Homo sapiens: one gene and its partner. The protein of the gene in region 1 interacts with the protein of each later gene in a biochemical or structural test. Each region holds a gene or a part of one and is shown on either strand. Other genes may lie near its edges.

Region 1 (3,820 bases):
ACCTGAATGACCACACCCTTATTTTGCCCAGAGGTTCAAATGACCAGTCTATCAATGACTGGCCAACAAAATTATTCACTGTAAAATGTGCACAAAGGTGGTAGAATATAATCTTTTATTCAGCTGAGCAGATATTTACCTTTGTTGGGGCCAGGTCCTTGTCCGGGGTTCAGAGGGGGAATGCGACCTTGTGCTCCCTGCTGCCCTAGGCCTGGTATCAGGGGTGGGGGGCCTGTGCTCTGTCCTTCCTGAAAATATGTTTTTAAAGTAAGGGTATGAAATCACAGGCTTGAGCTACATAAATAGTGATTGCATTATAACATGACAAGATAAAAATACCCAGTAAATATTTACCTAGTAAGATTACAGTAACATTGTCCTTAAATCAGGAGAAAGGAGATACTTCTTTTACTATAATAATTTTTTTAAAGCACCTGTATTTTAAACCTGTTGACAACTTTTATGTAAAATTAGATCTTTACTCGTAATGCCAAAAAAGAACATCAATGGAAAGTCAGAAATTCTAACACAGCAGCACTAAATTAAACCAATTAAAACAACTGGTTTAAGTAACTGGTCTGGTTAAAGTGAAGCAACTTAGATTTCAGCATATGAGAAATAAGAGCACAGATTTTCATCAGGCAACTTCTGAGATCTGAAATGCCCTACAAAGTATCAGATCTTCAGACTCATTCTACCAGTATTTCTATAGGTCAATTAAAATTTCAGAATCATGCTTCCCATGTATAAAATCTTTTACTACATGGTACAATAAAAAATCTCATTGAATTATCCCAGAAACTCAGGCATGTCCTTGTGACTCTGACATGTTTATAAATATTTCAGTTATAACACAGTAGCTAAAGTCCATTATTTTTTTAATCCTCCAAAATGAAAACTGTTAATTTACTACCAGAAAGTTAGGAAAATAACTTACAATAAATAATATTATACACACATACAACTGAGCAGTAAATTAATAAAATATATAATACTTCAAGTTTTAGGGCAATTTAGAATGGCAATCCTATACTTAATTCATCCTAACTTCTGAGAAGTGCTGAATAAAAATCTGGAAATAACTCAGACATCATCAGATTCTCCATGACTACGACACTTTTAGGTTCTGGAAGACCTACTTTAGAATAGTAGATAATTTATTTGTTTTAGCTTAGTAGTTGAGTTCAGGAAACCCAATGGTCATCTTTACATTAGGGATTCGTGGTGGTATTTGAAAAACCAAAACAGACTGTGCTTTCTACATCTGTAGCATCCCCTTTCTCCAAGTGTCTCAGGGAGTCAACATTAGCTGACTCGCTCACTTTTGGTCCACACTGGACCAAAAGTGAGTTTTCAGGGACAAAACTCAGTTATTCATACCCAAATAATGCCTCCAGACTAAGAACTTGAGAAAAGCATAAAATGCACATAGCTGAGCAGTATTACATCTATTTATGCTCATGCAATTCTTTTCGTAATTCACTCCCCCAAGCAACCTGAACTTTCCTCACACCATCTCTCAAGCACGAGCTCAGCGCATGAGCAATAAAAATTGGCTAACAAAAACAGAATCCTCAAAGAAGGAGAATTTCTACAGAAATGCTCCCCCCTGCAAATACTTTTATATGTGAGCTGAAAACAACTTGAGCAGAGTTTCATCCAAAGGGTCACCATTTCCAGAATGCTCAATTCTGGAATAACAGTCTCTTTATTTCTATTCACTGTAATAAACAGAGTGAGGTACAGAGTCTATAGTATACTCATGAGTTAAATATCCCATCCTATCTTTTAAAAGTAGAGTTGGCAGACAGGAAGTGATTCTGTGGCTGGCAGGCCCATGGAACACCAGGCTGCAATGTAAAGGGCCCAGAAAGGAGGCATGACAGCCTCAGAGCCGACCACCATGTAAAACATGCTTCCTCCTCAGGGCCACAGCTCTCCTGGAGCCCTGGGACAATTATCAGCTGTACTCAAATGAGAGTTGACCTTTTCTGAAGAAACTCTATTACCAAAAAAAGAAAAATGGTGAGAAGTAAAAATGAATACTGAGATGTACTTAATGGGAGTATAACCTAACTCATCATTCTTATGATTTCATTCTTCAGCCAGGATGCTAGTATCTTAAGCTACTGTCACTACTTGATAAGTATTTATATCCAGCTGTGACCATTTTCCACAATACTCAGCAGTATTACTTCTGTGCAGAGTGTATTTTCCCAATGTGCCCGTGAGTTGGAAATGAATAATACCTGGTTGAAGGGGGCCCGGGGCCCATCACCTAGCAGAGGCGTTTTCTGTTGCTGGAATGGTATTGGCCCTTGAGATGGATGTGGCCCTCTTGCTGGGTTCTGCTGTCCCTGAGGTCCGGGGGGTCCTTGCATGCCACCCTGGGGTGGAGGTCCTAAAGAGCCCTGGGGCGGCCCCTGCTGACTTTGTGAGCCTGGAGGCCCTCGCAATTCCTGGGGAGGTCCCAGCATTGATCCTTGGGGTGGAGGCCCCTGCATGCCTCGGATCTCCTGAGGACCTCTCATTTCCTGAGGGCCGTGTCCCAGTAGTCCACCTGGAGGGTGAGGTCCTCTCATCTCTTGAGGCGGGTGGCCCATAATCATCCCTTGGGGAGCAGGACCCTGGTTCTCCCGGGGGCCTGGAGGCCCCTGCATTCCTCTTGGATTCAATCCCATCAGAGGTCCCTGAGACACAGGACCTTGGATCCCTTGAGACCCTGGTCCGCCTTGGATCCCATGAGGATGAGGAGGCCCTTGCATTCCTCTGGGACCAGGTGGTCCCTGCATACCTTGAGTACCCGGAGGCCCCTGTGGGCCCAAGTGACCCTGAGGGCCAGGCGGGCCTTGGGGGCCTATGTGACCCTGTGGGCCAGGTGGACCCTGAGGACCCATATGACCTTGAGGACCAGAACTACCTTGTGGTCCAGGTGGCCCTTGAGGTCCCAAAGGGCCATGAGGTCCAGGATGCCTCTGCATTCCTTGGGGCCCATGCATGTCCTGAGGCCGTGGCAACCCCTGGGGCGGGCCCTGGGGCCCCTGTGGTCCCATGAATCCTTGTGGCCCCCCACCTCCCTGATGCAGTGGAGGACCTTGTGGTCCCATTTGTCCCTGGGGTCCAGGAGGCCTAAACTGTCCCTGTGGACCTGGAGGCCCCATTTGAGCCATGTTCATTGGCATCTGCTGAGATGGATGGGGCTGTTGAAAACCTTGAGGAATCTGAGACATTGGACCTTGTCCTGGAAAAGGCTGGGGTCCGAGGAGAGGGGTGCCAGATGAGGGAGGAGGCTGAATTTGCTCAACTTGTTTCTGTGCAAGTCTTTCAATTTTAAGTTGCTGGAAAGAAAGAAAGAAAAAAGCATGTTGAATAAACAGGCCAGAGCCCTTGAAGATGACAATATTGCTATCATGTATTCTGTTAGGGGACTCTCAAACATAAAAACTGCTCAAACTCTTCACGCTCCAGTGGTAATTAGAGTCCATGCAACACTCAAGCACTGTAAGGAGTTTTAGGTTCTTTCTCATTCTTTTTAAGTCCTGGGACACAGTAGTAAGGATTTTTTTTTCCTTATTTTTTTTTTCTGTCCCCCAAGCTGGAATGCAGTGGTACGATCGTGGTTCACTACAGCCTCACCCTCCTGGGCTCAAGTGATCCTCCCACCTCGGCCTCCGGAGTAGCTGGGACTACAGGCACATGCCACCACACCCAGCTAATTATTATTTGTAGAGACAGGGTCTTGCTATATTGCCCAGGCTGATCTCAAACTCCTGGGTTCAGCTGATCCTCCCGCCTCGCCTCCCAAAGTGCTGGGATTACA
Region 2 (3,820 bases), on another chromosome or scaffold:
GGTCTCGATCTCCTGGGCTCTAGCGATCCTCCCGCCTCGGCCTCCCAAAGTGCTGGGATTACAGGCGTGAGCCACCGTACCCCGCCACTCCATGGATTCTTGAGGGCAGAGTTTTTTGGAGCCAGGCTTCAAGCACATTTGATGTGTGCCTATGAGATAAAGACTGCTTTTAATGGCAGGCAAGGAAAATGCAAGTCCATCTCTTAACTTTCTTGAAGAAGCTTGAGACACAGCTCTGCAAGGGGCTGGAAGGTTTCATGTTATTGCCAATGCTTGGTTTATCTGATTGCTGTTGCCATTCATTTTGAAGGAGAAGCAGGAGTTGGTATACCAATATTCCCACTGTGCCAGCAGAGAGCGGGTTATCCTTACTAGAGAGCCAGAGAGTCAGAACGGTTTTTTTTTGTTTTTTTTTTTTTTTTTTGAGATGGAGTTTCACAATTGTTGCCCAGGCTGGAGTGCACGATCTCAGCTCACCGCAGCCTCTGCCTGCCGGGTTGAAGCAATTCTCCTGCCTCAGCTTCCCGAGTAGCTGGGATTACAGGCATGTGCCACCACGCCAGGCTAATTTTGTATTTTTAGTAGAGACAGGGTTTCTCCATGTTGTTCAGGCTGGTCGCGAACTCCTGACCTCAGGTAATCCGCCTGCCTTGCCCTCCTGAAGTACTGGGATTACAGACATGAGCCACCGCGCCCGGCCACAGAGCTGCTTTTTTTTGCAAGTGATATTGGATGGTGGTTGATGTACAAAGTAGGAGTTTGTCCTTGCTACTGATACCGTAGCTGGTACAAGGTTTTAATCGTTCTCCAAGCACTGTCACAGGTGTCATGTGTCTCGCCTTTTCAGCAGCTCTGTGAGGTGGCAGTAGCCCTGAGGAGACTGGCTGGACTCAGCTAGCATGGGCTGCTCAGGTCTTCAGCGTGCTGAGTGAGGCATTCCTGCACTATGACAGAGACCCAGCTGCCAAGACTTTGTCAAACAGACCAGAAGCCAGCAGTTCATGAAAAGACCTTGCTTGCAAGTTGTAGAATTTTTTAGAAAATTCGTGCTCTCTGTATTTATTTTCTGTAAAATAATTGATAGGGAAAGAATGTTCACATCTTATCATCTAGATGTTGCTGATTAAATAATATAACTTTCTGGGTTGGCATGAGTAGGTGAACTTTTAGGAAACGCAGCCTACCCTTCGAATACCTCTTGTAGCACCTGGCTGTTTCCCTTTTGAAATAATTGTATGTTTTCCTGGATACCTTATTACCTGGTGACACGTGTTTCTAGTTATTGACCTATGTTTTTAATTATAACTTTGGGTGGTGGTCTGAAATGAAATGTTAAGTTTGACGCAAAAATAGGACTAGTTTGTGTAACTGATTTGTTCAGAATAACAGCTTACATTTCTCAGAGCTTTTTGTATGCCAAGTGCTATGCGAAACCCTGGATGTACAATATTCTTATAGTAGCCCCTGAGACCAGTGCTAGGATTATTTCCATTTTGCAGATGAGGGGATGGAGATTAAGGAGTGGGGTCACTTGACCAAAGGTGCACAGCGCACAGCTAGATGCCCTATGGGAAGGTCTTACTGCATCTCTTAACTACCTCTTGGGACCAGTTAGGAACCAGTGCTTAATGAAACACTTTGAAGTTACATCTGTGGAAAGAATAAACATTTTAGCTGGGCAAGGTGGCACGGGCTTCTAGTCCCAGCCACTCAAGAGGCTGAAATAGGAGGGTTACTTGAGTCCAGGAGTTCCAGTCCAGCCTGGGCAACATAGTGAGACCCTGATTCTTTAAAAAGAAACACAAATAAATAAACATTTTAAGAGATTATATAAATTAGATATTATGAATTTTGTCCCTACATCGTGGAATAAAACCAAAACAAATACACAGCAAAATGCCTCTAGATTTATTTATTTATTTATTTATTTTTGAGACAGAGTCTTGCTCTGTCGCCAGGCTGGAGTGCAGCGGCGTGATCTCGGCTCACTGCAACTTCTGCTTCCCTGGCTCAAGCGATTCTCCTGCCTCAGCCTCCCGAGTAGCTGGGACTACAGGCACGTGCCACTGTCCCCAGCTAATTTTGTATTTTTGGTAGAGACAGGGTTTCACCATGTTGGCCAGGATGGTCTCCATCTCCTGACCTTGTGATCTGCTCCCCTAGGGCTCCCAAAGTGCTGGGATTACAGGTGTGAGCCACCGCTCCCGACGGCCTCTAGATATTTTGAGTGATTCAGCAAACCTCCTAAAGTTGACCCCGTAGCTGGGGTCACAGTCCTCTTTCTCCTTCTTCCCCCTACTTCCTTCTTATATCTGGCTATCTGGGAGAGAAAAAATTTAATACAATTGATTACTTTTTAGAAGAGTTAATTTTTACTTATTACTGTGGATTTTTTGTTTTTTAACAGTCACACCGAGGAGAAGACTCAGTGGGAACATCCAAAAACTGGAAAAAGAAAACGAGTGGCAGGAGGTTTGTATGTTGTTGTCTAAGGATCTTGGATGGAAGCATTAAGTAGATGAGGAAATGTCACTGGCAGAGAGGTGACAGGTTATTGTGTGTTTAGGGAGGGCTCTCTGGTAGAGAACCAGACTCCCACTCTGAGGAGCTTATGGGATTTGGCAGAAGAAGATGATGAGATCATAGGGTGGAGTGAGGATGATTTCTTACTGGTCTTAAAGTACCAAAATGGCCAGATGTGGTGGCTCATGCCTGTAATCCCAGCACTTCGGGAGGCCGAGGCGGATGGATCACCTGAGGTCAGGAGTTTGAGACTAGCCTGGCCAACATGTTGAAAGCGCATCTCTTCTAAAAATACAAAAATTAGCTGGGCATGGTTGCATGCGCCTGTAATTCCAGCTACTTTGGAGGCTGAGGCACGAGAAGTGCTCAAACCCAGGAGCTGGAGGTTGCAGTGAGCCAAGATCACACCACTGCGCTCCAGCCTCGGTGACAGAGTGAGATGCTGTCTGAAAAATAGCGACAACAACAACAACAAAAACCAGAAAATAATTGAGGCCTTTGATTCACAGTTTATGATGTTTTCCTATCGTTGCAGTGTTTATAAAATTGTTCTTGGCTATACTATGGAATTAAATATATAAGTATTTGGAAATTTCGTAAAGATTACCATGACTTCTAGGTGATTCTGAGATAATGTATGATCCACGGAATAGAAGTATAAGAAAGGGACAGGCACGGTGGCTTGTGCTTGTGATCCCAGCCCTTTGGGAGGCAGAGGTGGGAGGATCACTTGTGCCTGGGAATTCGAGGTGAGCCTAGGCAACATAGTGAGACCCCATCTCAAAAAAAAATATGAGAAGGTTCCTGCCCTTAAGAGGTTTAGGATCCAGCTGAAGAATCAACATGTGCACATGAAAAAAAATGGCCGTGCCCTCTAATGTCATATGAGGTCAGCGTATGAATGACGTTGGGTGCCTGCCCTGCATATACATATGTTCTTTGAGCTCATTCAAGGGAGAATTCCCATGGATTGGCACAACCAGTATGGTTTATAGAGCGATCAGGAATAAAATAGGTTTTCTTCAAAACAAGAGGCAAAAATGTGGAGCCCAGGGTGGGATCAGGGGCCTTCTGCAGCTGTCGCAGTTGGAACATGTGACGAAAGCCAGTTGATGTGACAACTGCTGGGTGGGAGGGACAGGCTTGGGGGCGGGGCTGGGAGGGCTCCTTCCCTTCCTGACCCAGGGATGGTCTTTACTTCTCCCTGGCACCTGTAGACCTGTCTTTCTTGTGTTTCAGATTTGCCATACGGATGGGAACAAGAAACTGATGAGAACGGACAAGTGTTTTTTGTTGA

Evidence for each region.
Region 2: the proteins of WDR33 (region 1) and WWOX form a complex in vitro, tested with the Homo sapiens proteins (one study listed by BioGRID).

Annotation. Positions count from the first base shown.
Region 1 is NC_000002.12:127,717,016-127,720,835, forward strand, and holds part of WDR33 (pre-mRNA 3' end processing protein WDR33), read right to left. Parts: intron 3,339-3,820; coding exon 2,250-3,338; intron 249-2,249; coding exon 140-248; intron 1-139. UniProt on the Homo sapiens protein: Essential for both cleavage and polyadenylation of pre-mRNA 3' ends.
Region 2 is NC_000016.10:78,106,016-78,109,835, forward strand, and holds part of WWOX (WW domain-containing oxidoreductase), read left to right. Parts: intron 1-2,407; coding exon 2,408-2,472; intron 2,473-3,762; coding exon 3,763-3,820. UniProt on the Homo sapiens protein: Putative oxidoreductase. Acts as a tumor suppressor and plays a role in apoptosis. Required for normal bone development. May function synergistically with p53/TP53 to control genotoxic stress-induced cell death.